Homo sapiens: one gene and its partners. The protein of the gene in region 4 purifies or fractionates together with the protein of the main gene of each other region. This does not show direct contact. Each region holds a gene or a part of one and is shown on either strand. Other genes may lie near its edges. The genes, in order: SLC27A2, MYH14, MYO9A and UNC45A.

What was found.
Region 1: the proteins of UNC45A (region 4) and SLC27A2 purify together in Homo sapiens (affinity purification with mass spectrometry; 2 studies listed by BioGRID and IntAct, with this or other methods). This does not show direct contact.
Region 2: the proteins of UNC45A (region 4) and MYH14 purify together in Homo sapiens (affinity purification with mass spectrometry; 2 studies listed by BioGRID and IntAct, with this or other methods). This does not show direct contact.
Region 3: the proteins of UNC45A (region 4) and MYO9A purify together in Homo sapiens (affinity purification with mass spectrometry; 2 studies listed by BioGRID and IntAct, with this or other methods). This does not show direct contact.

The regions. Positions count from the first base shown.
Region 1 is NC_000015.10:50,185,181-50,192,203, forward strand, and holds part of SLC27A2 (long-chain fatty acid transport protein 2), read left to right. Parts: intron 1-7,023. UniProt on the Homo sapiens protein: Mediates the import of long-chain fatty acids (LCFA) into the cell by facilitating their transport across cell membranes, playing an important role in hepatic fatty acid uptake.
Region 2 is NC_000019.10:50,198,739-50,206,630, reverse strand, and holds the start of MYH14 (myosin-14), read right to left. Parts: upstream 3,010-7,892; 5' UTR 2,960-3,009; intron 2,819-2,959; exon of another isoform or gene 2,655-2,818; intron 1-2,654. UniProt on the Homo sapiens protein: Cellular myosin that appears to play a role in cytokinesis, cell shape, and specialized functions such as secretion and capping.
Region 3 is NC_000015.10:72,045,140-72,052,162, reverse strand, and holds part of MYO9A (unconventional myosin-IXa), read left to right. Parts: intron 1-5,528; 5' UTR 5,529-5,599; coding exon 5,600-6,439; intron 6,440-7,023. UniProt on the Homo sapiens protein: Myosins are actin-based motor molecules with ATPase activity. Unconventional myosins serve in intracellular movements. Regulates Rho by stimulating it's GTPase activity in neurons.
Region 4 is NC_000015.10:90,938,263-90,945,285, forward strand, and holds part of UNC45A (protein unc-45 homolog A), read left to right. Parts: intron 1-1,468; coding exon 1,469-1,561; intron 1,562-2,043; coding exon 2,044-2,211; intron 2,212-4,174; coding exon 4,175-4,343; intron 4,344-4,649; coding exon 4,650-4,820; intron 4,821-6,629; coding exon 6,630-6,801; intron 6,802-7,023.

The DNA of each region.
Region 1 (7,023 bases), about 41 Mb from region 4:
ATTACAACCAGATACCCTCTTCCCACCCAGCTAACAGTTGTCTGCCATAGAGCTATGTGTTTACATAGAGAATATATGGGAATTTCTATATTAAACTCAAACGTGAACCAGACTTTACAGTGGACCTAAGGCACTCTCTGGACCGTCAACTGACCTCTGAGGGAGGCCACATATTTGAAAAAAAATCAGTTTTTCCAAATCACTGAGATACCTTTGCACATGAAGCAAAATTACAGTCTGTCACAGAGTTGCATGTTTACTAAACATGCCCATGGGAAAATATGTTGAATGGACTGATTCTTAGAATTCTTTGGTGTTGGAAGGGACCTTAGAGATATTCTAACCCTATAATCCTGTAAGTTTAATGAATGTGTTATACTTTAAAAAAAAAAGTTTACAGAAGAAACTTTAATAAGCCCAAGAATCACCTAGGAAGCTTACTTTTTTTTTTTTTTTTTTTTTTTTTTGAGACGGAATCTCGCTCTTTCGCCCAGGCCAGGCTGCTGTGGCGTGATCTCGGCTCACTGCAAGCTCCACCTCCCTGGTTCACGCCATTCTCCTGCCTCAGCTTCCTGAATAGCTGGGACTACAGGCACCCGCCACCACGCCCGGATAATTTTTTGTATTTTTAGTAGGGGCAGGGTTTCACCGTGTTAGCCAGGATGGTCTTGATCTCCTGACCTCGTGATCTGCCGGCCTTGGCCTCCCAAAGTGCTGGGATTACAGGCGTGAGCCACCACGCCTGGCCGGAAGCTTACTTTTAAAAACATTCTGAGGCTGGACACTATGGCTCACTCCTGTAATCCTAGCACTTTGGGAAGTGGAGGAGGGAGGATCACTTGAGCCCAGAAGTTCGAGACTAGCCTGGGCAACATGATGAAACCCCATCTCTACAAAAAAAAAAAATACAAAAATTAACTGGGCATGATGGTGAGCACCTGTGGTCCCAGTTACTGGGGAGGCTGAGGTGAAAGGATTGCTTGAGCCCGGGAGGTTGAGGCTGCACTGAGCTCTGACTGTGCCACTACACTCCGGCCTGGGTGATAGAGTGAGACCCTGTCTCAAAACAAAAAAATAAAATTTCTGAGATCATCCCCAAAAATGCTGATTCAGTAAGACTATGTTGGGGCCCAGGAATGTGTATTTTTATAAGAAACCCCACCGCCAACCCTAGGTGATTTTGAAACAAATGGTCTGAGGACTAGGCTTTGAGAAACAGTCTAGTTTCCCATTGTTTTTCATTGTTGTTTGTTTGTTTGTTTGTTTGTTTGTTTTTGAGACAGTCTCGCTCTGTTGCCCAGGCTGGAGGTGCCGTGGCGCGATCTCGACTCACGGCAACCTCCGCCTCCCAGGTTCAAGCCATTCTCCTACCTCAGCCCCTCAAGTAGCTGGGACTACAGATGCCCACCACCATGCCCAGCTAATTTTTGTTATTATCAGTAGAGATGGGGTTTCACCATGTTGGCCAGGATGATCTCCATCTCTTGACCTCGTGATCCACCTGCCTCGTCCTCCCAAAGTGCTGGGATTAGAGGCGTGAGCCACTGCTACTGGCCTTCTCATTGTCTTATAGCTGTATAAACAAAGGCCTAGAGGGATGATATGAATTGCCCATGATCAAGTGGATAGTTAGGAACAGAAAGGTAGAGATAGAACCCAAATATTTTTTTCTCACTTACGAGGCACTGTTTATTCTATCACACCATCTTGAACATGATACATAAATGTCAGTTTGATTCCATATTTTGAGTTTCAGCCCAGGGCTTGTGGACTAGTAAGAGCTCTTGAGCTCCATCTGTCAGTCAAATTCTGCAGTATATGTAAAGGACCAGCACAGAGGCATTTATCATGAGGATTGATCCAGTTGTTATGAATTTGGGGGTTTCTTTATAACACTTAACAGGACTCAACCCTATCAGGAATTTCAGTACTCAATTACTCTTTTCAATTTTACTATAGTTACAGAAAGTCAAGACTCATAAACACTTCCCTGAATCAAGCAGCAGCACTGTTTCCCAGAGAATATGACTTTCTCTCTGTTGTACATTTCAGGATCGTTCTCCAGGGCAGGGTATGATCTAGGTAATCACATGGGAAAATTGTCTCCAAGGATAAGAACCTGTATCAATGTTGTAACTAATAAAAGCCACATGGCTGGGCCAGTAGTTTTTCACCCAACTTTCCAAATACAGAATATGGGTAAAACAGTAAAACATATTTTATTTCACACAATATGGGATATTTTATAAAAACCTACAAAAGAGGCCTGAAATTGTACATTTGTTCCATTTCCATTTATCCTAGCATCAAGACCATCAATAAACTAGCTCTTCCACTGGGTAGATAACCCAGGTCTCCTGAGGGTCCCTTCATCAGCTCACTGGCAGGGTATACACTGCCTAACTCAACACAGCCATGCGAGGCTCCCACAGTGTAGGCACTACTCTTATGCAAGGCTTTAGTAACAGTTAAAGATACTCTCTGTTGCAAAACTGAGTCCCAGGTAAGTTATAAAACGTTCCAGATTACCTTTGACCTGGTTTTGCAAGGTTGCAGAAAACAAAATTTGACCTCCTTTAAACAATGTGATAAAGGAAAAATGCTTACAATAGCTTTCAAAAATATTGCATCATTAAAAGCTATAAGACTGAAGAACTTCATTACAAAACAAGTGTTGGGACCAAGGATAACCCTTGTCATCCAAACTTTTGAGATTAGATTGAGAAAAACTGATGGTACAACAATTTGATTTTCAAAGCAAGAAACATTTAGAGGGAGGAGAGGCCACCAAAAAAAAAAAAAAAAGGAGAGAGAGTCCCAACAAGGTACAAGCTAGTTTTCTCTGTGCCATGATGGGATGGAGAAATAAGATGAATTAGTTCAAGGATCTTACAGTCCAGTAAAAGAACTAAACCGCATGCACAAATGATTGTGACACCCAGTAGAATGTGCTCAGTGTGCTGGGAGGGCTACAAGTGCTGCAGGAAAACAAGCAGAGGTCAAGAGAAGGCTTTTTGGGGCACTGACTATTGAGCTGAACAAATGCAGTGGGGGAGGGGGCATTCCAGGCAAAAGGAGCACCAGAGGCAGTTCTGATCAGGTGCTTAAAACAGTGAGATGCTTCATTAAAGGATATTGCGATGTAAGAACAATGGCAGTCTGGACCTAATAATAGTCATTTTTTTAAGCTGTTTCCTGAAGGGACAGGAAATGGAAAAAATAGGGACTCAGAGAGTCCAAAGAATGGCCAACAGCAGTGGCCTCACTTCCACAGAAGGAAATATTTAATTTTCTAATGCCAACTTTAGTCCAGAATCAAGGCACAGAAATAATCTAATCTACACTCTTCCCAACTCTTTGGACTGCCCAAGGAGTAACTTAAATGAGTTGTTTCAATGCACTTTGTCTCAAAGGCTTAGAATTCTCTCATATATCTTTGAATAATTCCCTAGTAATGTCTAGCACATAGTAGGCAGGCAGTCAATAAGTGTCTGTTGGGCAGGGCACGGTGGCTCATGCCTGTAATCCCAACACTTTGGGAGGCCAAGATGGGCAGATCACCTGAGTTCAGGAGTTGGAGACCAGCCTGGCCAACATGGCGAAACCCTGTCTCTATTAAAAATACAAAAATTAGTCGGGCATGGTGGCGGGCATCCGTAATCCCAGCTACTCCGGAGGCTGAGGCACAAGAATCACTTGAACCTGGGAGGTGGAGGTTGCAGTGAGCCAAGATCACACTACTGCATTCCAGCCGGGATGACAGAGTGAGACTGTCTAGATAGGTAGATAGATAGATAGATAAATAGATAGATAGATAGATAGATAGATAGATAGATAGATAGATAGATGCATACAAACATACATACATACATACATACATAATGGATAGATAATGTCTGTTGAATTAATGGGTTCCATTATTCTGGTTGATTGTGACAGGCTTTCTCTCCTGAAGCTTAAGGACCACTGGGTTGGGCATGAGGGCCTGAAAAATGATGTAACAAAATCAGATGTGAAAAAATCCATTTAAACTCAATCTACCCCAGGCCCAGCCTTACCCTACCACAGGCTTACTTACCTCTCAAAGGTCCTCCTAATCAATGACTCTGTCCAGCTCTCTGGCAGTACATGGTAGGACAGCGGTGCTCTCCTTGGGTCTCAGTGCAGCAAGTAAGCAGGTGGTGAGCACAGGATGGGCTGGAAAGGACCTGTGAGTAGGGTGGTGGAGGACCCTGTACAAGGACAGAAACCCAGACACCAAATGATTAATATATCCAAGGGCTGGGATTCCCAGCCTAGTAGCCCAAGGAAAGATAGCTTAAAGATATTCTCTAAGATTTTTCTTCTCTCCCTGCTCTTAACTAAAGCTTGCAAAGGAGGTGATTGTACATCTCCATCCAAGAACAAAACTAGCACTTTGCTGGCATATATGGGAATGCACTTTATTTTCTTCAGAAACAGGGACTGAAGAGGTAAAAACAAACTCTGAATCAGGTGTTGTTATTGAATCTGAAAGAGAAGGATAGAGTTCAGATTATTCTATATAATAGGTGCTAGTATTTGAAAAGGACCTTCCCACAGCCTCTGAGAAAAGGGAAGTAGATCATTGGTAGAAAGATGACATGGTTGCTTACAGATATCAAATGCTAACAATTATGTAAGGCCTTATGTGACCTGGTAACTCATGATAAGGAATTACCTTTGATTCCAGGGCTATTTAGAAAGCAAGAGTTCATATAAGCAAGAACTTTAACTTGGAGAAATAAAAATTAACATCAAGGAGATTACTACTTAATTACCTAAATGTAAAATGAGTATGTATTTCCTTGTTAAATTTTTGCTTACTCCTGGTGGAACTTAAACATTTTTATGACCTCCGGGTGATTTGTGTGGGGAAGAAGGAGGAGCACATGCATGTCTCTCTCTCTATATATAGTATTATAATGTGCATCATCTTGCTGTACAAAATACTGTCATTCCAAACTGCCAATGATTGAGATGCAAAATTACAGTTACAAATGGCATTTTAGGAACTATTTTTAGGTTGTCTTCAAGGACTATGTTATTAATAGCACCAGTTTGCATTTCAGTTGCTTTTCTGAATGAAGAAAAGAGATAAATCTTCAAGCTTGACTTGCTCATCAACCAACCATTTCATGATCAGAGTACATTTCCTTTCACTACCTTCCTTTTGGACCTTACCTTCTTGGTAAATATTTCTGGGGTGTTTTGTTTAATCCAGTCAGTTACTCATTCACTGAGGCAGTCTAGTAGCAGAACAAGCTACTAGACTGAATGTTTTCCTATTGGAAAGCTGCAGGTTTAGCCTGAGCACCTGACACCTTAGTAATGAAGATTGATTCAGCTCACCACCTACCCAATCTCTCTGCCTTCTAGCAATGGACTTGTTTATTCAGAAAATTCTTCCTTTTTCCTTAAAAAAAAAAAAAAAGGCAGGGGCAGACTTAATATGCTACCTTAATTTTTTAAAATTTTCTTTGAACAGACTTTAAAGGGGATGGGGGAGTAGTGTTGTAATCACTTGATTTTTCAACACCCAAGTGTGTGCTCTTTCTCTGTGGGTTTATTTCAGTCTACAACTTAAAACTAGACTGATGAAGAACCGACTGATGGAGCTGCTCTACACCCTTCAGGCAACTTTCTGTGACCACTGTTTCTCATACTCAAACTTTTAATAAAGCTTGAGGTTTTGCTCTTCAAGAAAAGATCATCCATGTTACTCATTAAATGCAGATCCACATGATTGAACAAGCACTGAGCAGAAGGCCAAGCAGCCAGCCTCTTCCAAGAAATAAGGCACTTTGCTAGAACTTAATCTGAATGGCTCATACAAGGAGGTGGGAACCTCAGAAGCCCAGAATGATTCTTTTCATTTTGCATGTGACCCTCCATACACTGACTTGGTGAGCCTCTTCTCATTTGTAGAAATAAGATTACTGGTATCTATATCACAGAGTTGTTATGAAAATTATGTGAAGTGATGTATGTAAAACTATACCAACAGTTCTATGCAAATGAAAATTTTAAATGTTTGTTATTAGTAAAGAGAGAGGTGGGTGCATGCTCTGATGTGCCACCCAGATCCCTGCTTTAGGACTGACGGACTCACTCTTCAGCTGCTGGGAGCTCTCAGCTGAGACCTCTCCCAGGACTTCTCCTTGGTTGAAGAGAGACACTTTGCCCAAGGTTAAGCACCACCACCCCAGCCTGAGTCCATTGGACTGGTCAATGGGCAGGTGTGAAGGCACAGCCTACCTCCCTTAATTTAGGAGGTAACTCTGAAGGGCATCCCAGGTCCAGAGTCCCCTTAGGATTAGAGGATCTGCTGAGGGAGACTTCTGTTGTGACTGCATTACAGTTCAATGTCTCCCTCTATCCAGTCTGCTTCCCTTGCAGCCTCACAGGTCCCATTCCCAAGAGCACTCCTGCATGCACATCTCGGAGTCTCAGAGAACCCAACCTTGACAAATAGAATTATAGGAGCTTACATGTTCTGATTGATAGATGAGCAGACTTTACAATAAAAATTATAAAAGGTAGATAGATATTTTATGCTTGCATTAGAAAATATGTAGGCCAACCAGGCAGTGGCTCATGCCTGTAATCCCAACACTTTGGGAGGCCAAGGTGGGCGGATCACTTGAGGTTGGGAGTTCAAGACCAGCCTGGCCAAATTGGTGAAACCCCATCTCTACTAAAAATACAAACATTAGCCGGGCATGGTGACAGCCGCCTGTAATCCCAGCTACTCGGGAGGCTGAGGCAGGAGAGCCGCTTGAACCCAGGAGGCAGAGATTGCAGTGAGTTGAGATCACGCCATTGCACTCCAGCCTGGATGACAGAGTGAGACTCCATCTCAAAAAAAAAAAAAAGAAAAAAGAAAATATGTAGGCCCAAACATATCTACAAAAGACTCAAGAAAATAAAAGACATTAAATATCAACTAGATAGTTGACAGGTAGATTCACATCCAGAATTTCCTTTCAAATTTCTTTTTTCTTT
Region 2 (7,892 bases), on a different chromosome or scaffold from region 4:
TCCCCAAGCCCAGCAGCTCCAGCTTCCAGTGACTCTTGGCCCTGAGGCTCTCAGGCCTCAAACGCTGGACCCTTGCACTCTGAAGGCAGCAGGGAGTTTCTCCACCCCGTGGCCCCCAAATCGTCAAGGCTCACCCCATATCTCCAGTGTGACCTGGATACACCGGACCCAAACTCCATCCCTGGGACTTTACCCTCACCCCCACCCACCCCACCCCACCCCATCCACTTCCTCACCAGCCCTGTGGCCTTTGACCAGGAAGGGTTTCGGAGTTTTTGCAATCACCCTATGCCCTATGCCTCTCCTCCCTGGAGCCAAGAGTCCAAGCCCCCAGCCCTTTCCTTCCCCAGGCTGAGGAGTCCGAGCTCCCAGCCTCCTCCTCTCCCAGGACCCAGGAGTCTGAGCCCCCAGCCCCCTCCTCCTATGGATTGGGAAGTGCAGGCCCCCTCACCTCACTGCAGCCGGGCTAGAGGTGAGGATGCTGAGTTCTGAAGATGGATCACAGCCCTGATGGGGCGGGCAGGGCCTGCAGGCCTTGGCTCCAAGTGGCCGAGCCTCTCTGACTGCCCTACCCTTCCTCAACCAGCAGGAACACTCTGCCAGGGCTAATTACTGTCACCTGGGCAGGTGAAAGCACCTGCCCTGGGAGGGGCCGAGACTGCTGGGCTTGAAAAAGAAAAGCAGCCAGGGATCCGCCCTGGGGCAGAGGTTGGGGCCCTTGGCATCCAGCCGTCTGACCCTGGCTTCTAGCGCTGGGTTTCCGGAGTCCCAGTACTCAATGCCCTCCTGTCTCAGACCCAGGAGTTCAGGCCCCCAGCCCCTGCTCCTACAGACCCCAGAATCCGGGCTTGCAGCCCCCTCCTCCCCTAAGACCCCAGCTCTGCAGTCCTGGCCCCAGTCCTTTCCTCCCCCAGGACCCAGAAGTTCGGGCTCGCGGCGCAGTCCTTCCTCAGACCTGGGACAGCCGGCCCCCAAGGCCCCTTCTCAGATCCAGGAGTCTGAGAGCCCCGTACCCATTCCCCTGGACCCAAGCGCCTGTGTCGCCGCCCCCTCAACTCGCAGATCCTCGGGGCTACCTGGGGGCGCCGACCGGAGCGGGGAGATGGGGTGAGGGCGCGGGAATCCCCGTTCTCTTCAGGTGCAGCGACCTCCGCGGTCCAGCGCAGGGCGGGGCCCCGTCGCGTCACAGGGCGGGAGCCCGGCTCTGATGTCACCCAGCACCTGCCCGGCTGGGAACGGGGCGGGCCTGGAGCTTCAGGGCCTCTGACGGGGGCCGGGGGAAGGCGGGGGTTGAGCCTGTTGCCAGGTGGGCGGCGGCGGCGGCGGCGCCAGGGGCTCCTCCCCCTTATGGAGGGCAAAGGTCGAGGGCCCGCCGCGGAGAAGGCTGAGGATTCCCGGGATTCAAACCCCGCTGGAGCTTCCTGGGCCTCAGCTTTCCCTGCTGTGCATTGCGGCCAGTGAAATTAATAAAACGACGTTCAGAAAGTTCCCCAGCCCAGTGCTTCATCATTAATCTCCCTGAGCCTCAGTTTCCCAACTGCGGGAAGGGAACAACAAAATCTATAGACAGTAAGAGTACCAAAGAAGAGGACAATGGTATTCTGTCCTGAGCTTCAGTCTCGGGAGTGAAATAAAGACTACATGGTGATAAGAGTACCTACTATGTGTCGGGTATTTTCTCCTCTTAGAACAGCTCTTTGAGATCATAAAATGATTTAAAAAAAAAAAAAGAGGGAGAGACAGGGTCTCTCTCTGTTGCCCAGCTTGGAGTGCAATGCCACGATCATGGCTCACTGCAGCCTTGACCTCCTGGGCTCAACCGATCCTCCCTGCTCAGCCTCCCGAGTAGCTGGGACAGCAGGGTCACGCCACCACGCCCGGCTAACTCTTTTACTTTTTGTAGAGACGAAGTCTCGCTGTGTTGCCCAAGCTGGTCTCGAACTCCTGGGCTCAAGCGATTCTTTCGCTTCCACCTCCCAAAGTGCTGGGATTACAGGCCTGAGCCACTGCGCCCGGCCTAGAATAACCTCAACAACCAATGACATAGGGGTGATCAGCATGTCCATTTCTCTGATGTGGAAACTGAGGCAGGAAGGGTCAAAGTAAGGCACTCAAGATCACACAGCGTAAGAGGGAGGTCTGGAATTCAAGCCTATACCGTTTTCTGCCATTCTAAAGGAGGGGGTCTGGAAAGAACTTGTAGCAGGTCCCTAAAGACATGAATTTCTGCGTCCCAGTTGGTGATTACTACCAACCTGCTTCCCCATCTATGCCACAGGGACCACCGCTTTCCTTAGGGGACTCCTGTGGGACTGAAAAGGTTAAAGGACCCAGCACACAGTTGGTCTCTGGAGTGTTCTTCTCCACCAGGTCCCCCTGCAGTCACCAATTCGGCCCAGTCTCAGCCTTCCCCTCTCTGTATAATGGGTACAATATAACTCACCTCGAGTCAACACGATAAGGAAAGGAAATTATTTAGTTATAAAAAATAAAAGCGTCCAAGTACATCATAGGTTCTCAAATATGTCCTTCCCTACCCCTCCGCCTCTTCCAGTCACGACCCCTCTCTCTGGCCTCCGATTCTGACACGTGAGAACAGAGACATGTCATGCTGGGGGCGGGGGACTGGAGGCGATGACTCAGGTATTAAAGCGGCCGAGGTTCCAAAGACAGCCTCAGTTTCCCCTTCTGCGGAACAGGCCCGGGGCTGACAACGAGGACCCCGACCGGGCCTCGCACACGGCGGCAACTGGAGTTGGGGGAGTGTAGACGTCCCGCCCCCCCACCTCCCTCGCCGCCGTCCCGCTGCGCGCCCAAGGTGAGTGTCCGCGTCACCTCCCCGCCGTCCCCGGCCGCCTGCCCGGGCTCCCGGGCCCCGATCGCAGCCCCCAGGCTCCAGCTTCCCCTGGCTCAGTCCCGTTCCGCCGCCCCCGGAGGGCTGCCGGCCCCGGGCACTCACCGGCTTCCAGGGCCGTCCCGAGGCTTCGGCCTGGGGAGAAAGAGGGGCGTGTCCGCCAGGACAGCCCCGCCCCCAAGAGAGCAGCAGAGGCCAATCGGCGCCCGCTGCGGCAAGCTACGGCCCCGCCCCTGGGGGACGGGAGCCGCCAATCAAAAAGAGCGGCTGGCGGGCTGGGCCAATCAGAAGTTGTCGAAGGGTGCCAGCCGTGGGAAAAGAACGCGGCCCGGGCGCGGAGCTAGGCGGCGCGGTCGGGGGTGGAAGCCGAGGCCTGATGGGCACGGGGCGCCACCAATAGCGAGGCGCGGGGGGCGGCCGGGGGCGGGAGGCCCAAGGGGCCAGGGTGAATGGGCCGCTTTGTGCGCAAGGCATGAATGGGGGCCTTTGTAAGGGCCGGCGTGGGGGGGCCGACCGAAGGCCGGAATGCCTGGGTCCCCCGGGACCCGGCGGGCAGGAGAGACAGGAGACAGAATTCACTTTTGTCGAACGTAGACCATGTACCAGGCACCCTCCCAGGCTCTCACCCACCGGGGAGGTGTGGGCCGTGATACTATCGGAATAACAATGATCGTTTATCAAGCACTTCGATGTAGACCGGGAGCTGTGCTAAGCGCCTTACCTGCATGATCTCATTTAATCCTTACAACGAAGCCCTTGAAATTGGTGCTATTAAGATCTTCATCTTCTAGATGAGGTAACCCCAAGCTTAGAAAGAGGGTGTTAATTGCAGAAAGTCACAGAGCTGGCCGATGGCAGAGCAAGGACTCAGATCCAACCAGAAGTTGTGCTTTTAACCGCCATGCTATGCCCAAACGTGGTAATGATTCCCCATTTACAATTTACAGATGGGAAAACTGAGGCTCAGGAGAGCCAAAAGACTTCCCAAGGTTGGAAGGGTGCCGTGGCTCACACCTGTAATCCCAACACTTTGGGAGGCCAGGGTGGGAGGATCACTTGAGCCCAGGAGGTCAAGACCAGCCTGGGCAACATAGGCCCCATCTCTATTTAAAAGGAAAATAAAAAGAGCCAAGGGCACAAAGGAATGGCTCCACTGAACCCAAGGAGGCCTGCCAGCTTGGCTCGGCTGCTCAGCAGCTGTGTGGGCTCAGGCCAGTTGCTGGACTTTTTTGAGATTCCATTTATTTCTGCACTCGTAAAATGGGAGTGATGGACTGTCTGCCTTCACCCTTGCTCTCCCTACAGTCTACTCTATTCAGATGGGGCCTTTCCTCTGTTCAGAGCCTTCCATGGCTCCCATTTCACTCAGTAAAAGTCTAAGAACTCACCATGGCCAATGAGGTCCTGCGGGATGTGGCTGGCCCTTTTGCTCTCTCTGATCTCACCCCCAGGCCCTCCCCTTCATACTGCTCCAGCTACACTGGCTCAATTTCTCAAACCAGGAGGCCTGGTGCTGCCCCAAGGCCTTTGCATTCTCTGTTGGGTCCACCAGGAATGCTCTTCCCCAGGTTTTGCATGACAACCTCTCTCCCACATCATCCGTTCTGCTCCAATATCACCTCTTCCAAGAGGCCTTTCCTGGCCATCCTATATAAGACAGTTCCTCTCATCACTCTCTCTCGTTTAACCCCGCTTTGCTTTTTCTCATAGCACTGGGAGTGTTTGCTAATTTATCTGTTTATCATCTGTCTCCTCACTAGAATTTAAGTCCCACGAGGACAAAGATCTTTATTTTGTTCAGTGCCGAATCCTCAGTGCCTGGCACACAGTAGGTGTTTAATAAGTGTTTGTTGAGTAAATGGTAATGAGTGCTTGTATTGAGTGGATTAAGTGAATTAGTGCCTACAAAGCTCTTAGTACAGTCCTGGCACCAGGGAAAAGGCTGAATAAGAAAGTACTGGCCAGGAGCGGTGGCTCACGCCTCTAATTCCAGCACTTTGGGAAGCTGAGGCAGGCAGATCACTTGAAGTCAGGAGTTCGAGAGCAGCCTGGCCAACATGGTGAAACCCCGTCTCTACTAAAAATACAAAAATTATCCAGGCATAGTGGCCCACGCCTGTAATCCCAGCTTTTCGGGAGGCTGAGGCAGGAGAATCACTGGAACCCAGGAGGCGGAGGTTGCAGTGAGCGGAGATAGCACCACTGCACTCCAGCCTGGGTGGCAGAGTGATTCCATCTCAAAAAAAAAAGAAAGAAAAGAAAAAGAAAATACTGATTATCATGACTATTGCCATTTATTGTCCTACAAACAGCATGCAGGAGAGAAACTATATACATACGAAGTCTAGCGTACGAGCAAGAAGCCAAAGAAATATGAAAGGAAATGTTGGGAGATAAGAGATGGGCAGAAAAGAGACAAGAGAAGCTGGAGTTGGGTGCTGAGGGCAGACACAGATTCAAGCATCCAACTCCCAATGCACTTGCTCAGCAACAGCAAAGGTGAATCACAGGACCATCCCTGTGGTCATAGTGTCAAGATTGCCATGGCTTTGAGATTGCCACAGCCACCTTCCACTTCTTTGCAGATGGGGAAACAACATCCTGGGGAGAAAAGGACCTTTCTGAGAGTACTCGCAGTGATAACACAGCTCACAGTTGTGAGGTCTGATTGTGTGCTGGAAACATGACTGTCATTATGTCAGTGCATCCTCATGCCAGCCCCGTGAGGCTGGCATGGTCATTACCCCACTTTATAGGCTAGCAACATGTCCAGGGTCTCCTGACTACTGCTAATGGCGGATCTGGGCTCCAACTCCTAGGAAACAGGCCCCTGCAGGCATCTGTCTTAACCAAGACAGAGCTGAGGGCTCCTGTCACTCTGGCTGGAGCGTGCTCCATGGAAACATCCTACAGTAAAGATAATGAGTGCTGCTGTGTATGGAGTGCTGACTGTGTGCTGGACATTTTGCCCTTTTATGTATTAACTCATTGGATTCTCTCCACAACCCTACGAGGCTGGTGCTTTTATTATCCCCATTTGATGGATAGAAAACTGAGGTCCACGCCAGGCACAGTGGCTCACCCCTGTAATCCCAGCAATTTTTGGGGCTGAGGTGGGAGGATCACCTGAGGCCAGGAGTTTGAGACCAGCCTACCCAACATGGTGAAACCCTATCTCTACTAAAAATACAAAAATAAGCCAGGCATGACAGTGGGCGCCTGTAGTCCCAGCTACTTGGGAGGCTGAGGCAGGAGAATTGCTTGAGCTCGGGAGGTGGAGTTTGCAGTGAGCCAAGATTGTGCCATTGCACTCCAGCCTGGGTGACAGACTGAGACTCTATCACAAAAAACTCAAAAAAAAAAAAAAAAAAAAGAGAGAGAAGAAAGAAAGAAAGAAAGAGAAAGAAAGAAAAATTGAGGTCCAGAGACATGAAAGTCCTGTTCCCAACGGTGCTAGGAAAGAGTATGGACTGGGACACAACAGAATTTCAAACAGGAAAGAAGGCACTGGGCACCCACATTTTAACTATAATCTGCCTGGTAACTGGTGATGTCATCAACACTACCCAGGGCTAGATTTAGCCTGGGATTACCCAGGTAGATTTACCTGGCAACTTGTGATATCATCATGCCCACCAGGTTCTAAATTGACCTCATAATTGGAGATGTCATCAATTCTGCTCAGTCTATGAGGTAATTGATGACATCACTGAGTGATAGTAATGAGCTTTCTTTTGCGGAGGGCATTCTATGTGGTGGACGGCTGTATCAGCATTTTGAAAGTTGCTGGTATTTATTGAGTGCTTACTGTGTTCCAGGCACAGTTCTAAGCCCCTTCTGTGTGCTAAATCCTATAATCCTCCTGATAACGCTAAGTGGTAAGTTCTAATGTCAAACCCATTTTACAGATGAGGACACTGAGGCACAGCTGACCAAGGTTGCACAGTTTAAAGGTGGCAGAGCCTGCATTCAAATCAATGTAGTCTGCACAGTTTAAAGGTGGCAGAGCCTGAATTCGAATCAATGTAGTCTGGCTGTAGAGCTTGGGCTGCACAAAGCCAGCAGAGGGAGGCTGAGACCCAGAAAATCAAGTCCAAAGGAGGCACTCCACTGCCTCTAAGTTCTCCATCTGTCCTCCATCCAGGCCTGCCAGAGAAGGTCCTCAGGATAAAGCCCCAAACTCATTATCTCAGGGATCAAGGCCACCCCGTCAGCCATCCCTCTCTGAACTCCAGGCACTGGGATCATTCACATTAAATTGTGAGTCCTTGGCTGTCCAGGGCTGACCCCTCTGTGGGTCCTGTGGGTATCAGCTGCAGCAGAGAGGGAACCCAGACAGTGAAGGGGGATGGAATACCACGACGGGTGTGTGCCGGGGAAAAGGAAAGGGGAATATGGGGGCATTCTGAGCCTCCAGGGAAGCTGGATTCCCACCAGCTGGCACAGCCCCCAGACGTGACCTCGTTATGCAGAATCTGAGTAAGGAGCAGCACAGGTGTGGGGAAAGCCAGCAAGGAACTAAGCTGATGAAAACAAAAAGCTGTCAGCACCAAAAGACAGGGTGAGAAAAAAAGAAAAAGAAGATAAAAAGTTGGAGCTGAAAGGGGAAGAGACGGGAGAACCAAGGACAGGGCAGCTTTGTGGAAGAGAGTTTGGGGGGAAATTTTGAGCAAAAAAAATTAGGGAGCAGTTTCCATGCCTGATGGAGGGAAAGGGGCCTGAGTCTTACTAGAGCAAAAGGAGGAAGAGGGTGCTAAGTTTTGCCATGGGTCCTGACTGCAATCCTGCCTGGGCATTTTCTCTGCAGCAAAGACTGGAATGGTTCCAGTATTTTATTTTTGGTCGCTGGGCTGTTGTTTTCCTGCATGTGACTCGGAGCTGGAACTGGCTCTGAGACAAGAGCAAGCTAGCAACCCCGTGTGGGTCACAGATGAGTGACAGGTTCAGTTCTGCAACAATTATTTTTTGAGTGCCTACTGTGTGCCAAGAATTGTTCTAGACCAGGGGTCAGCAAACTTCTTCATGTAAAAGGCCAGAC
Region 3 (7,023 bases), about 19 Mb from region 4:
AGCTGGTTGTCCCATCATCTTCTCAACTCCCGGCAGAGAGGAGACCCTGGGGTGGGCACCTTTTCTCTGCAACTGGCAGGTGGTTGTCTCCCCAAGTCTGGCTGAGTTCAGGCTTTTATAGGTCTCAGCAGGGAGGGTGTGTGTACTGATTGGTTCATTGACAACCATGGGTGAGCCTGGAGAAAGCACCACAAGTTCCCACTCTGGTCATCGGGTGCCAATGGAAAGCCTGGTCCCCAGGCTTCAGGCCTTCCCTGGCTTGAAGGTGGGGTTTCACCAGGGACCTGCCTCCTTTTGCCCAGGAGCCTGCCTGCCTCCTCCTGCTGTTCATGGTGCCCAGGCTGTTTGTGACAGGGGGTGCCTACAGGTACTGAGCTGCCCTCAGTACCCCCTCAGCCTCCCTCTAGTGTTTGTAGGCACCCAAAGTTTAGAGGGGGCCAAGGTGGCAGGGGGCTGGTGTATCAGTGCTATCTGGAGCGTGTGCACACTTGGCCAGGCTGTGACAGTGCCCAGTCTCGGACCCAACCTTTCTCTGAGATTGGAGTGGGTGCTGGGAGTGAGGAGAGGCCAGGCAGTGGGAGCAAACACCTCTGAGCCTGCAGGGACTGGGCGGGGGGCCTTCCTGGGCCTCTGAGAGTGCAGACATGCCTGGGTCTGCAGCTGCAGCTTGGGCGGCTGCAGCTGTGCCTGGGAGGGTGGGGCTCCTGCCTGCTCCCATCCCCCAAGAGCACAGTGATGCCTGGGTCTGCAGCCCACCTGGGCAGGTGGCCGCAGCTGCACCTAGGGAGCACGAAACTCCTGCCCTGTCAACTCAGAAGGTGGCAGGGTTCCCACCTGTTCCTGGCTTCTGCTGCCTCCATGGAGCACGCAGTCCTGGCTGCACCTCCCCCACTGCAGCTGGTATCATGGCAGTGGCCGCTATAGATGGGCCGCTGCTGCCATCGGTGGCATGCACTTACAGTCCCAGCTACTCGGGAGACTGAGGCAGGAGGATCACTTGAGTCCAGAAGGTTGAGGCTGCAGTGAGCCATGATTGTGCCATTGTACTCCAGCCTGCATGACAGAGACAGACCCTGGCTCTATAAAACAAAAACAAATACAAAAACAAAACAAAACAACAACAAAATAAAGTGAGTTAATGGAAAAGGAGCTGTAGGAGTGAGTCAGAAAAAGAGCAAGACTATCAGGAAGACTACAAGAAAAATAACTATGTGAGTACACTTTCAAGAACTAGAAATTGGCTGCTTTAGTCATGCCATAGTGTGGTGTGTTAAAATGAAGAATGAGGAAAGACCTTTGGATTACCAACTCTGTGGAATTTTGTGACTTCTCCGGAGCATTGTCAAGTAGCTTGCTATGTGGGAAGAGTGGTAAGGGAGTAGAAAGTGAGTTCCCAAATATTTGGGAATATGGTGATTTTCAAATACTATTTTCTGGACCAGCAATAACAGAATTACCTGCATTTCCTCAACTCATAACTATTGTTGAGCCTGGTAATGTACATTTAAAAAAAAATTTTGTTTGTTTGTTTGTTTATTTATTTATTTATTTATTTAGAGACGGAGTCTTGCTCTGTCACCCAGGCTGGAGTGCAGTGGCATGATCTTGGCTCACTGCAAGCTCTGCCTCCAGGGTCCACGCCATTCTCCTGCCTCAGCCTCCGGAGTAGCTGGGGCTGCAGGTGCCCACCACCATGCCTGGCTAATTTTTGTATTTTCAGTAGAGATGGGGTTTCACCATGTTAGCCAGGATGGTCCTGATCTCCTGACCTCGTGATCTATCCGCCTCGGCCTCCCAAAGTGCTGGGATTACAGGTGTGAGCCACCGCACCCGGCTGGTAATGTACGTTTTGAAAAAGCTCCCCAGATGATTTTGATGAAAGCTCATGTCTCGGATTTGCAAGTACAGATTTTCCAAGCTGTTTAGTAAGGACTGGCTTGTGATCAAGATGGATTTCTGAGTGGTATTTTGAGACAAACCCTCCTTTTTGTAAAAAAAAAAACAAAACAAAAAAACCCACAAAGCAGTAATTGATAAAATAACAAAGATAAAACCAAACTGACAAAACTAGGACTCAAAAAAGGTAAACACTTCTGTTTCAGGAAGGAGCAGGTGTGATTTTGGCTGCTTTGAAGTAATGGGGAAGTGTAATTAGAGTTGGGCTTATTGTTGGAAACAGTGGTCCAAGATAGGACTCCTGTTAAAAAAGATGTTTCTAAGTTTACTTCCAGGGCTGCCATATTATACAACTTTAGGGATTAGATTGTAGTTACTTAGTACAGTGGTCTTTAACCTTTTTGGCACCAGGGACTGGTTTCATAGATGAAAATTTTTCCACAGATGGGGTAGTAGGGGATGGTTTTGGGATGAAACTATTCTGCCTCAGATCATCAGGTATTAGATGATTAGTTAGATTCTCTGGCATTAGTTAGATTCTCATAAGGAGCATGCAGTTTAGATCCCTTGCATATGCAGTTCACAATAGTGCTTAATGCTTCTATGACAATCTCATGCTGCTGACGATCTGACAGGAGGCAGAGCCCAGGCAGTAATGCTTACTTGCCTGCTGCTCATCTTCTGCTGTGCGGCCCAGTTTCTGACAGGCCATGGACTGGCACTGGTCCATGGCCCAGAGGTTGGGGACCCCTTAACTTAGTACATCTCCTGGAGTGGTACAGGTCACAGCCTCCCTGGCTGTAAGAAGATTTGCTGCTGACTGCTGCCAGATGCCATAGCGTATATGAAGCAAACACTTAGGGATTCAGGAAAGCAAACATAGCTATACAACTAGGAACCTGGTAACTCAGAGTATATCCTCACTGTTATTGCAGAGCAGAATCTCCAGCTAGACTATCTGTAAGAAAAATATTTATGAGATAACTGAGGAAATTTGGAAATTTGAATATCAATTGATCATTTAATACCAAAATTTTTAATTTTTAAAAATATATTTATGATACTGTAGTTCTCTTAAAAAAGTAGTAAACATGTTCTCAGTAAGTGTTTGTATGAAAAACAAAAGAAGTTCCATCAAAAGTGCACTTGTAAAGCTAAATTCTCAAATATATGAACTCATCTCATGCTAAGGAAGATATGAAATAACCATAAGAGCAGTTCCGTCTGGATGACATTTCAGTGTTAGTCTGAAAAATATTAAATTACATACTGAGGGTTTTCAAAAAGAAAAGGAGTAATAGCCCTTAAGTATAAATAATTTTGAAATGTAAATCGGCGGAAAAAAGATGAGGTGGATTTGAAAATGACAAAAACTTTAGAAGTGAAAAATATAGTTGTAATTTTTAAAAGCCAACAGCATGGTGTTCATGAATGAGAAGAGTCAATTAGATGTCAGTTCTGTCCAATATTAATCTGTAAAGTCAATGCAGTATTAAAATCTGAAAAGGTTTTTTTTCACGATAGTAAACATGCAAACTTAAACATTTTTATGGTAGTGTAAATAGCCAAGGTAAAATTTGTAAAGAACAACACATTAAGGTAATGTGCCCTTCAGATACCAAAATTTATTATAGGACTGTAGTAATTAACAGAGGTTCAGGGGTGGAAAAATAGACCTATGGAACAGACTATAGAGCCCAGAACAGATTGATAGGTACAGATCCATAGATGGAATCTATTTTCAGTATGCTATGAGATAGGACTGTTAATTTTCTTCACTCCAACTCAGATTAGCAATTGAACCAGTACCACAGTGAATAGTTTGTCCTTTCCTCACTAGTTTATTTCTTTTTTAATTTTTTTTTTTTTTGAGACAGTCTCATTCTGTCACCCAGGCTGGAGTGTAGGGGTGCGACCTCAGCTCACTGTAACCTCTGCCTCCCGGGTTCAAGTGATTCTCCTGCCTCAGGCCCCTGAGTAGCTGGGATTACAGGGACGTGCCACCATGCCTGGCTAATTTTGTATTTTTAGTACAGACAGGGTTTCACCATGTTGGCCAGGCTGATCTCGAACTCCTGACCTCAGGTGATCCGCCCGCCTTGGCTTCCCAAAGTGTTGAGATTACAGATATGAGCCACCACTCCTGGCCTATATGGCTGGGTTTTTTTTATATGTTTTGTATTAATCTCTGTGTTTGAAAGACCATCTAGGCAAACAGGAAAAAATAGTTTCTTGATTAGAAGACTTTGACAAATATGTAGTAGTATGAGAGGATAGATAGTACCCTGGGCAACATGGTGAAACCCCATCTCTACTAAAAATACAAAAATTAGCCAGGCAAGGTGGCGCACACCTGTAGTCCCAGCCAGGTTGAGGTGAGAGGATCACCTGAGCCCGGGTGATGGAGGGTGCAGTGAGCCAAGATCATGCCGCTGTACTCTAGCCTGGGTGACAGAACAAGACCCTGTCTCAAAAAAAAAAAAAAAAAAAAAGGAAGTAACTGAAAGTATTTCTTCTTATTATTTTTTTAATAGCACATCATCCTTATATGTTAAAGGATGAAATAAATAAGGTAAATATTGATGACACATGAGAGTAGTTTTTTGGGGGCATATAACTAACTAATGAAGATAAGAAACAGGTTTTATCAGCCCTGGAAAGTGTGTGGGGCATATTTTCTCAGTAGAAGACAGGAATGGAATAAGATAGATGAGGTAAAGATAGGAATAAATTTTGAGTTGGAGAAGCCATTTGAAGGAAATCACTATTTTCTCAGTGAGGTATAAAAGTTGAAATCATTCTTCTAGAAGTGTAATATACTGTATACGAGGTTCGAGAAGATGGGAAGAAAATGCAGAATACTTGTAAGGAATGCAATAAATAAGGTTAGGTAAAAAGATATAATGGTAGCATTGAAGGAAAAAGGGAAGCTGAATAAAATTTGTAGTGGTGCCTAGTTGTATAATTGTGTTAAATTTGCCTAGCAAGTCAGGGGCAGGATTCTTTTGTCACTCTTGCCAAACTCCCTTCTCCTTCCCACCTTGTGGGAGGGAGTGAGTCAGAGCCTAGAATTCCTTGAAAATATATGTCTATCTCCTTAGTTGGTTTCTCTCATCATTTTCTTGGTTTTATGTAATTTCTATGTTTATCTATCTTCTTGCTGTTTTTAACAAATTTTACAAAATTTTTGCTCCATTGTTGGGATGCTTTCTTGTTTTTGCTTTATCCTTAAGAAATTTTGGGTACAGGGCAATTAGATTTGCATGGTTATTCTGTCTTAATCCAGTCTTTGTTAAGTATAAGGAAAGAACTTGGTTCTAATCCCAAGTTCCTTACAAACATTTGAGACAGCAGGGGAAAAATAATTTTTCTTTGTACTCTTTGGATTTTTGTATAATAAAACATTGAAATATATGTTTTTTTTGGCAAGTTACTATTTTAGAAAGTGCCTAGATTTGGACAGTGAAACTTAATATTATGTGGTCTCAATGAAACTGTTGCTGTGCTAAGACAAGAGTTAGTATTTTGTGTTTTAGAAGATGTAATCAACATGCTTGTTAAGCTTTTCTTTCTTGAGCATCAGAAAGCAATGTGTATTTACTTCTAAATATTTTGCATCTTTTATGTTACAGTTATTTTACCAAGAAAATGGTTTGCACGACTTTGAACATATACTATCCATGCTGATGGGACAGGATCCAATATGAATATAAATGATGGAGGAAGACGACGCTTTGAAGATAATGAACATACATTACGGATATATCCTGGGGCTATTTCAGAAGGGACAATCTACTGTCCGATTCCTGCCAGAAAAAACTCCACAGCTGCTGAGGTGATTGAGTCTCTTATAAACAAACTTCATCTTGACAAAACAAAATGTTATGTTCTAGCAGAGGTAAAGGAATTTGGTGGAGAAGAATGGATTCTCAATCCAACAGATTGTCCAGTTCAGCGAATGATGCTGTGGCCCCGAATGGCTCTGGAAAATCGCTTAAGTGGAGAGGACTACCGCTTCCTTCTGAGAGAGAAAAACCTTGATGGATCAATCCATTATGGTAGCCTGCAGTCATGGCTACGGGTAACAGAAGAACGTCGCAGGATGATGGAACGGGGTTTTCTTCCACAGCCTCAACAGAAAGACTTTGATGATTTATGTAGTTTACCTGATTTGAATGAGAAAACTCTCTTAGAAAACCTACGAAATCGCTTTAAGCATGAAAAAATTTATACCTATGTTGGCAGTATTCTAATAGTTATTAACCCATTCAAGTTTCTTCCTATTTATAACCCCAAATATGTCAAAATGTATGATAACCACCAACTGGGAAAACTTGAGCCCCACATTTATGCTGTGGCTGATGTAGCTTATCATGCCATGCTTCAGCGCAAAAAGAATCAGTGCATCGTGATTTCAGGAGAGAGTGGTTCTGGGAAGACTCAAAGCACAAACTTTCTTATTCACCACCTTACTGCTCTCAGTCAGAAAGGATTTGCCAGTGGAGTAGAACAGATTATTCTTGGAGCTGGACCAGTACTTGAGGTAAATATATAGAAATCTTATTTTTGATTTTAATTTTGATTTTTATCCTTTGAGGTGGGGGGGTGTACCATTCCTGGAGGTACTGCAATACCAGGTCGATGTGTGGAGTAGATCAAGCAAGATACTGTTCCATCTCCCAGCTCCAAAAACTCATTTAGGGCTGGGCGCAATGGCTCATGCCTGTAATCCCAGCACTTTGGGAGGCCTAGGTGGGTGGATCACCTGAGGTCAGGAGTTCCAGACCAGCCTGACCAACATGGAGAAACCTGTCTCTACTAAAAATACAAAAAAAATTAGCCAGGCGTGGTGGTGCATGCCTGTAATCCTAGCTACTCGGGAGGCTGAGGCAGGAGAATTGTTTGAACCTGGGAGGCAGAGGTTGTGGTGAGCTGAGATCATGCCATTGCACTCTAGCCTGGGCAACAAGAGCGAAAATCCATCTCAAAAAAAAAAAAAATTGTCTTTGGATAGAAGACATTTCAGATATTAAACTATAAAAACATAACTGTACTTGATCTTAGCCAAAAGGCTGAGAAGCTATAGAAATACTGTTCTTGCTATTCTGGGCACACTGCCTGCAGCGT
Region 4 (7,023 bases):
TACGTATATTTTTAAATTAGGAGAAAAGAATCTAAAGACCATTATGAGCTACAACCAAGCTCAAATTCGCCAGATAATTTGACGTTAAAATGCTGACACAGTGGAAGCAGATAACATGATGGCAGACACCTCACTGAAATGTTGAAGCCTGGGAAAGCAAATAGGTTTCCTCTCTCAATGCCAACTCTGATTGGCAGTGGCTGCCCAGAGTCCTATGTTGAGAAGAATTAGGAAGCAGATTGCCTGAGCCAAGCAGGGGAACGTGCCATGACTGGTTAGTCATGGCTGCCATGGATGCAAGAGAGGAAGGCGGGTGGTCCACATGCTAGGCTTGTGCCACCATCTATGCCCAGGACTCTGGGGGGTGGGGGAGTAGGCCTAGGATGATCTTCCCCATTCAGATTATTTATTTATTTATTTATTTGTTTGTTTTGAGACAGTCTTATCCTGTCACCCAGGCTGGAGTGCAGTGGATCTCTGCTGACTGCAACCTCCACCTCCCAGATTCAAGCGATTCTCCTGCTTCAGCCTCCCGAGTAGCTGGGATTACAGGCACCCGCCACCACACCTGGCTAATTTTTATATTTTTAGTAGAGACGGGGTTTCACCATGTTGGCCAGGCTGGTCTCAAACTCCTGACCTCAGGTGATCTGCCCACCTCGGCCTCCCAAAGTGTTGGGATTACAGGCGTGAGCCACCGTGCCTGGCTTCAGATTTTATTTATTTATTTTTTTGAGACAGAGTTTCACAGTTATTGCCCAGGTTAGAGTGCAGTGGCGTGATCTCGGCTCACTGCAACTTCCGCATCTTGGGTTCAAGTGATTCTCCTGCCTCAGCCTCCCGAGTAGCTGGGATTACCGGCATCTGCCACCACGCCCGGCTAATTTTTTGTATTTTTAGTAGAGATGGGGTTTCACCTTGTTGGCCAGGCTAGTCTTGAACTCCTGACCTCAGGTGATCCACCTGCCTTGGCCTCCTAAAGTTTTGGGATTACAGGCGGGAGCCACTGCGCCCAGCTCAGATTATTTTTAAAACAGTGAAAAGAGAATTCTGGAGCTAAAGGAAGTGTTAGCAACTACCTCACGATCTGCCAGCTCCCTGGCAGGAGGTATAAATGCTGAGTTCAGTGCCATGGGAAGCCCATTCACGCTGCCACAATGTAGATGGCACCACTGGGAGTGGGTTGCCTCGTAGCTGACAGGATACCTCCCCTCCGAAAAGGCACTCCAGCATCGGCGCAGCCCCTGCTGCCCAAGCAGGAAATAGCTCAGAAAGAAAAACAGGTGCGGGAAATTTAGGAGGCACTGCCAGGCAAGTCTCTTCCTGCCCAGGGTAGCTAGGTGCTAGCCCTGAGCCTGGACATCTTTACTGTGCCTCCCAGAGTGAGGAGCTGGAGACAAATGAATAGGGAGTGTGATGTCTCTGGCCAAGAGCCGTGATTTGTTCCATGCTTTGTTGGTTTGTCTAGGTGCGATACATGTCCTCGACGGATGCCAAAGTGGAACAGATGTTTCAGATACTGTTGGACCCAGAAGAGAAGGGCACTGAGAAAAAGCAAAAGGTATAGGCCCTGGGCTGAGTCAGTGAGTGAGCTCCCACTAGAGCCACCCATCCATAGGCCCCCGAAGCCACTGCTGCCTTGCTCTGCCGCTCCTCCAATCGTGCAGCTGGGCTCACGGGGCCTGGATGGGAGCTCTGAGGGTCTGGGGCTTTAGCGTGAACCAAGGAAAGAGAACCAGTGTTCACAGAGTACCTTGTTGGCCACGCCCTGTGCCAGGAACTGGGTGTACAGAGGTAACTGAGGCACTGTCCCAGCCCCTCAGGCTCTGCTGGGGACTCATTTGCTCTAACCATCAATCCCGAGAGAAGGCTCTTCCCTCTATTTACAGAGGAAGCTAAACTTCAAAGAGGTTATTTTTTGGCCGTGGTCACTCAACTGTGAAGTGGAAGCAGAGAGGTCCAGGGCTCGGGGCCCCTGCTCACCAGTGCTGCATCCTATGCCGTGTGCAGTGTCAACATTATAATGTGCTTCCTTTGACGCAGGCTTCTCAGAACCTGGTGGTGCTGGCCAGGGAGGATGCTGGAGCGGAGAAGATCTTCCGGAGTAATGGGGTTCAGCTCTTGCAACGTTTACTGGACATGGGAGAGACTGACCTCATGCTGGCGGCTCTGCGTACGCTGGTTGGCATTTGCTCTGAGCATCAGTCACGGGTAGGTGGAGTGGAGAGGCTGGTTACAGCTTCAGTCCCTTTGTCTGTCTGTCCATCCATTCCTCCATCCACCCATCTGTCCATCCGCCCATCTGCCCGTCCATCCATCCATCCACTCTTCCACCCTCTACCCCTTACCTTATTCTAAAAAGAACTTAGGTAGGTTATGGTGCCTCACACCTGTAATCCCAGCACTTTGGGGGGCTGAGGCAGGTGGATCACTTGAGGTCAGGAGTTCAAGACCAGCCTGGCCAACAAGGCGAAACCCTGTCTCTACTAAAAATAAAAAAATTAGCCGGGCATGGTAGTGCACGCCTGTAATCCCAGCTACTCAGGAGGCTGAGGCACGAGACTTGCTTGAACCCAGGAGGTGGAGGTTGTGGTGAGCTGAGATCGCGCCACTGCACTCCAGCCTGGGTGACAGAGCGAGACTATCTCAGAAACAAAACAAAACAAAACAACAAAAAAAGAAAAGGCAGAGTACAAGGAGATACATGTAACAAGAGAGAAAAAATAAAAATGGCGTGAAAAAGACCAACATAAATTAGGATGAAGTGGGGTAGAAAGAGCAAAAACAGCCTTGGGGTACCCCAAGCACTTGCTTTGTAGGGGGCTTACAAGTGTGAGCCCCAGCTTTCCTGCAGCCAACTCACAAAAACACATTGGTCACTGACTCCTTCAATGTCCATATGGCACAAGCAAGCTCATGGCCCAGAATGTGCCTGGCCACCACAGCATCTACCATCGAGACAGTGACCGGACACGTAGGGCTTGATCCCGACATGATTCTCAGCATGGATGGTGGTGGCCCAGCATGGACAGTGCAGCAATAACAGTCCTGCTCCTGGGCCAGTGTGGTGAAGTCCATGCCCCCAGCTCTTACCTGAGCTGGCTTGCTCCAGGGGAGAGGGGACCAAAGACTAGGCCCTTGGTTGCTTTTAGAGGAGCCCACAATTCCTAGATAGGGGTGAAACTGTGAAATAGTCAATGAAATCTCTTTAGGCTAAGCTTGGGCTGCATTCTGGGTCTCCCAAGGCTAAGACTGTTAAAAGCATGTGCATTCTGTTCCCTCCTGCCTTCCGGTCCATTCCAGTTCACAGTCTTGGCCAAGGACACTTAGCTGCTAAGTGGAAGCAGTCAGGATTTGGGCTCAGTGGACCAAGCAGGCCTTCTAGGGTTCTCCAGCTTAGAAACAGGGTGGAGAGGGCCCGGCGCGGTGGCTCATGCCTGTAATCCCAGCACTTTGGAAGGCCGAGGCGGGCAGATCACGAGGTCAGGAGATTGAGACAATCCTGGCTAACACGGTGAAACCCCGTCTCTACTAAAAATACAAAAAATTAGCCGGGTGCGGTGGCGGGCGCCTGTAATCCCAGTTACTCAGGAGGCTGAGGCAGGGAAATGGCGTGAACCTGGGAGGTGGAGCTTGCAGTGAGCCCAGATCGCGCTACTGCACTCCAGCCTGGGCGACAGAGCAAGACTCCGTCTCAAAAAAAAAAAAAAAAAAGAAAAAAGAAAGAAACTGGGTGGAGAGGTCTCACGGGCCCATTCCGTGTACGTGACGTCCACATCCCCAGGGTGTGGAAAGAACCTCAGGGTTTAGACTGGGGAAGAACTAGACCATTAAGCCTGGTGGTCAGGTAGCTTCGTCTAGGTATAGGTCTTTTTCTTGGGGAGGCATGAGCTAAGGCAGCTGCTCCCAGGGCTGCAGTATACTATGTCTTCTCTGGCACCAAGGAGAGGTAGTAGGGCATTGCCGTGTAATGTCTCCTTTAGGAAATCTTTCTAACAAAATTATCCTGCCATTACCCTGGGTCATGCCATCCATTCTGTGTTGTTTTCACCTGGAGCTGGGCCTTCCACCCAATTCTCTCCTTCTGGCCGTATCCTCTAACTCACAGTTAGGGATCTCTGTGGCTGCCCTTCAACAACTGGAAGCTTCCTTCTGTTTACCTCTCCCACCCCAGACAGTGGCAACCCTGAGCATACTGGGAACTCGGCGAGTAGTCTCCATCCTGGGCGTGGAAAGCCAGGCTGTGTCCCTGGCTGCCTGCCACCTGCTGCAGGTTATGTTTGATGCCCTCAAGGAAGGTGTCAAAAAAGGCTTCCGAGGCAAAGAAGGTGCCATCATTGTGGGTGAGTGGAAGCAGGTCTGGGGTCTTTTGGACGTTACTGTCATGGAAGGGATGGGGCTGAGCCAGCCAGGCCAGTTTTTTGGGGACCAGACTTGCAGCTGCAGGTTGTTTGGAATACGGTTTGGTGACATTATTTTACTCTAGATTCTCAGCAACCAAGGTGCCTCAGGACAAAGCTGGAGCTCAGTCTGGAGCCTGGGATGCGGATCCCCCCTTCCCTGTGTCTCCCTGGTTTGTTGGAGAAGTTGAAGGGTCAAACTGGGCTGGGCTGCTGTGGAGCCCACTGATGTCTTCTTGTTGTTGCCAGATCCTGCCCGGGAGCTGAAGGTCCTCATCAGTAACCTCTTAGATCTGCTGACAGAGGTGGGGGTCTCTGGCCAAGGCCGAGACAATGCCCTGACCCTCCTGATTAAAGCGGTGCCCCGGAAGTCTCTCAAGGACCCCAACAACAGCCTCACCCTCTGGGTCATCGACCAAGGTAGGTGATATAGTTCACAAAAACTTGCTTCAGCAGCTGAAGTTTGTTTATTCTTAGGAGTAATAAGAAAAGTTGTGAGTGGGGCCAGGCATGGTGGATGACACACTTTGAGAGGCAGGGGGTCACTTGAAGCCGGGAGTTTGAGATCAGCCTGGGCAACATAGCGAGACCCTGTCTCTATGAAAAATTAAAAAAAATTAGCTGGGCATGGTGGTGTGCATCGGCAGTCCTAGCTACTCCAGAGGCTGAGGTGGGAGAATTACTTAACCCTGGGAAGTCAAGTCTTCAGTGAGCTGTGATTGTACCACTGCACTACAGACTGGGCAACAGAGGGAGACTGTCTCAAAAAAAAAAAAAAAAAAAAGAAAGAAAAGTTGTGATTATCTCCAGCCACGTGTCTGCACTGAAGTGCGTCCTGTGGCCCAGGAGGATGCTGGAGCTGAGAAGATCTTCCAGAGCAATGGGATTCAGCTCTTACAACACCTTCTAGACACAAGAGCTACCCTTAGGGGGCTCAAAGTTAGACTCTTCTATCATATGCGTGTGCACATACATGCACATTGAGCGGGCCTGCAAGCAGGTTAGCAGAGAGGCTGGATTAGCTTTCTGTATTTTTTTTTTTTTGAGACAGAGTCTCACTCTGTCGCCCAGGCTGGAGTGCAGTGGCGCGATCTCAGCTCACTGCAGCCTCCGTTTCCCGGGTTCAAGCAAATCTCCTGCTTTAGCCTCCCGAGTAGCTGGGATTATAGGCACGCATCAGTATGCCCGGCTAATTCTTGTAGTTGTAGTAGAGATAGAATCTCACCATGTTGGCCAGGCTGGTCTCGAACTCCTGACCTCAAACAATGCACCCACCTTGGTCTCCCAAAGTGTTGGGATTACCGTCATGAGCCATTGTGCCCTGTTTTTTTTTTTTTTTTTTTTTTTTTGTTTGAGTGAGCATGTATTACTTCTATACTCAGAGGAAAAAATAACGGTAGATATATCAATTCATCTCTCTTTTCCCCTAAAAGATAAATAAGAGCTGGGCGTGGTGCCTCACGCCTATAATCCCAGCACTTTGGGAGGCCGAGGTGGGCAGACCACAAGATCAGGAGTTTGAGACCAGCCTGGCCGACATGGTGAAACCCCGTCTCTACTAAAAGATACAAAAAATTAGCCAGGCATGCTGGCATGCACCTGTAATCCCAGCTATTCTGGAGGCTGAGGCAGGAGAATCACTTGAACTCAGGAGGCGGAGGCTGCAGTGAGCCGAGATCGCGCCATTGCTCTCCAGCCTGGGCAACAGGGCGACTCTGTCTTAAAAAAAAAAAAGATAAATAAGAAAAGCTTTGCAAAGGCCTTGCATGAGCAGGGCCTTTCACAATGGTCCTATGAGGTGTGGATATCGTGTTCACAGTGGTCCCACGAGGTGTGGGTATCGTGTTCACAGTGGTCCCACGAGGTGTGTCTATTGTGTTCACAGTGGTCCTACGAGGTGTGGGTATCGTGTTCACAATGGTCCTATGAGGTGTGGATATTCTTTTCCCCTTAGTTTTACAGATGAGGAACCTCAAAAGCTCCAGAGCGTTTGGCCCCAGGGGCAGGGCTGGCATGCAGGCCTCACTTCTGAGGTCCTTCCCGATCCTACAGCCGCCTCCCTTAGGTAGCAGATCAGCTAAGCAGATTCTCCGGGCTGCCCTGGACACAGTTGTCAGAACTCTGTAGCCTTCTTGTCTTGCTTTTCTCCACATCTCCTAGGAAGCCTGTTTCTTTTACTTGTAGGGGTTGGAACTAGTGTTCTACTGTCTAAGCGGGGTGTCTTTACAGGTCTGAAAAAGATTTTGGAAGTGGGGGGCTCTCTACAGGACCCTCCTGGGGAGCTCGCAGTGACCGCAAACAGCCGCATGAGCGCCTCTATTCTCCTCAGCAAGCTCTTTGATGACCTCAAGTGTGATGCGGAGAGGGAGAATTTCCACAGACTTTGTGAAAACTACATCAAGTAAGGAAGTCTGTTTCACCTCCCGTTGCCAGGGATTCTAGCGAAAAAGTTCTGACTCCTTGAGGAGGGGCAGAAATGAAAGGTTTCCAGCAGAAACAGTAATCTTGGGGAGGACTAGTTGGAGGCTGAACAAAGGGAAAGTGGCCCCAAGGCCCACTTCCTGCTCCAAAGTGGCCTCCGCAGGGAGGTTCTTTCTCAAGTCAATGTTCCAATAATGCAACA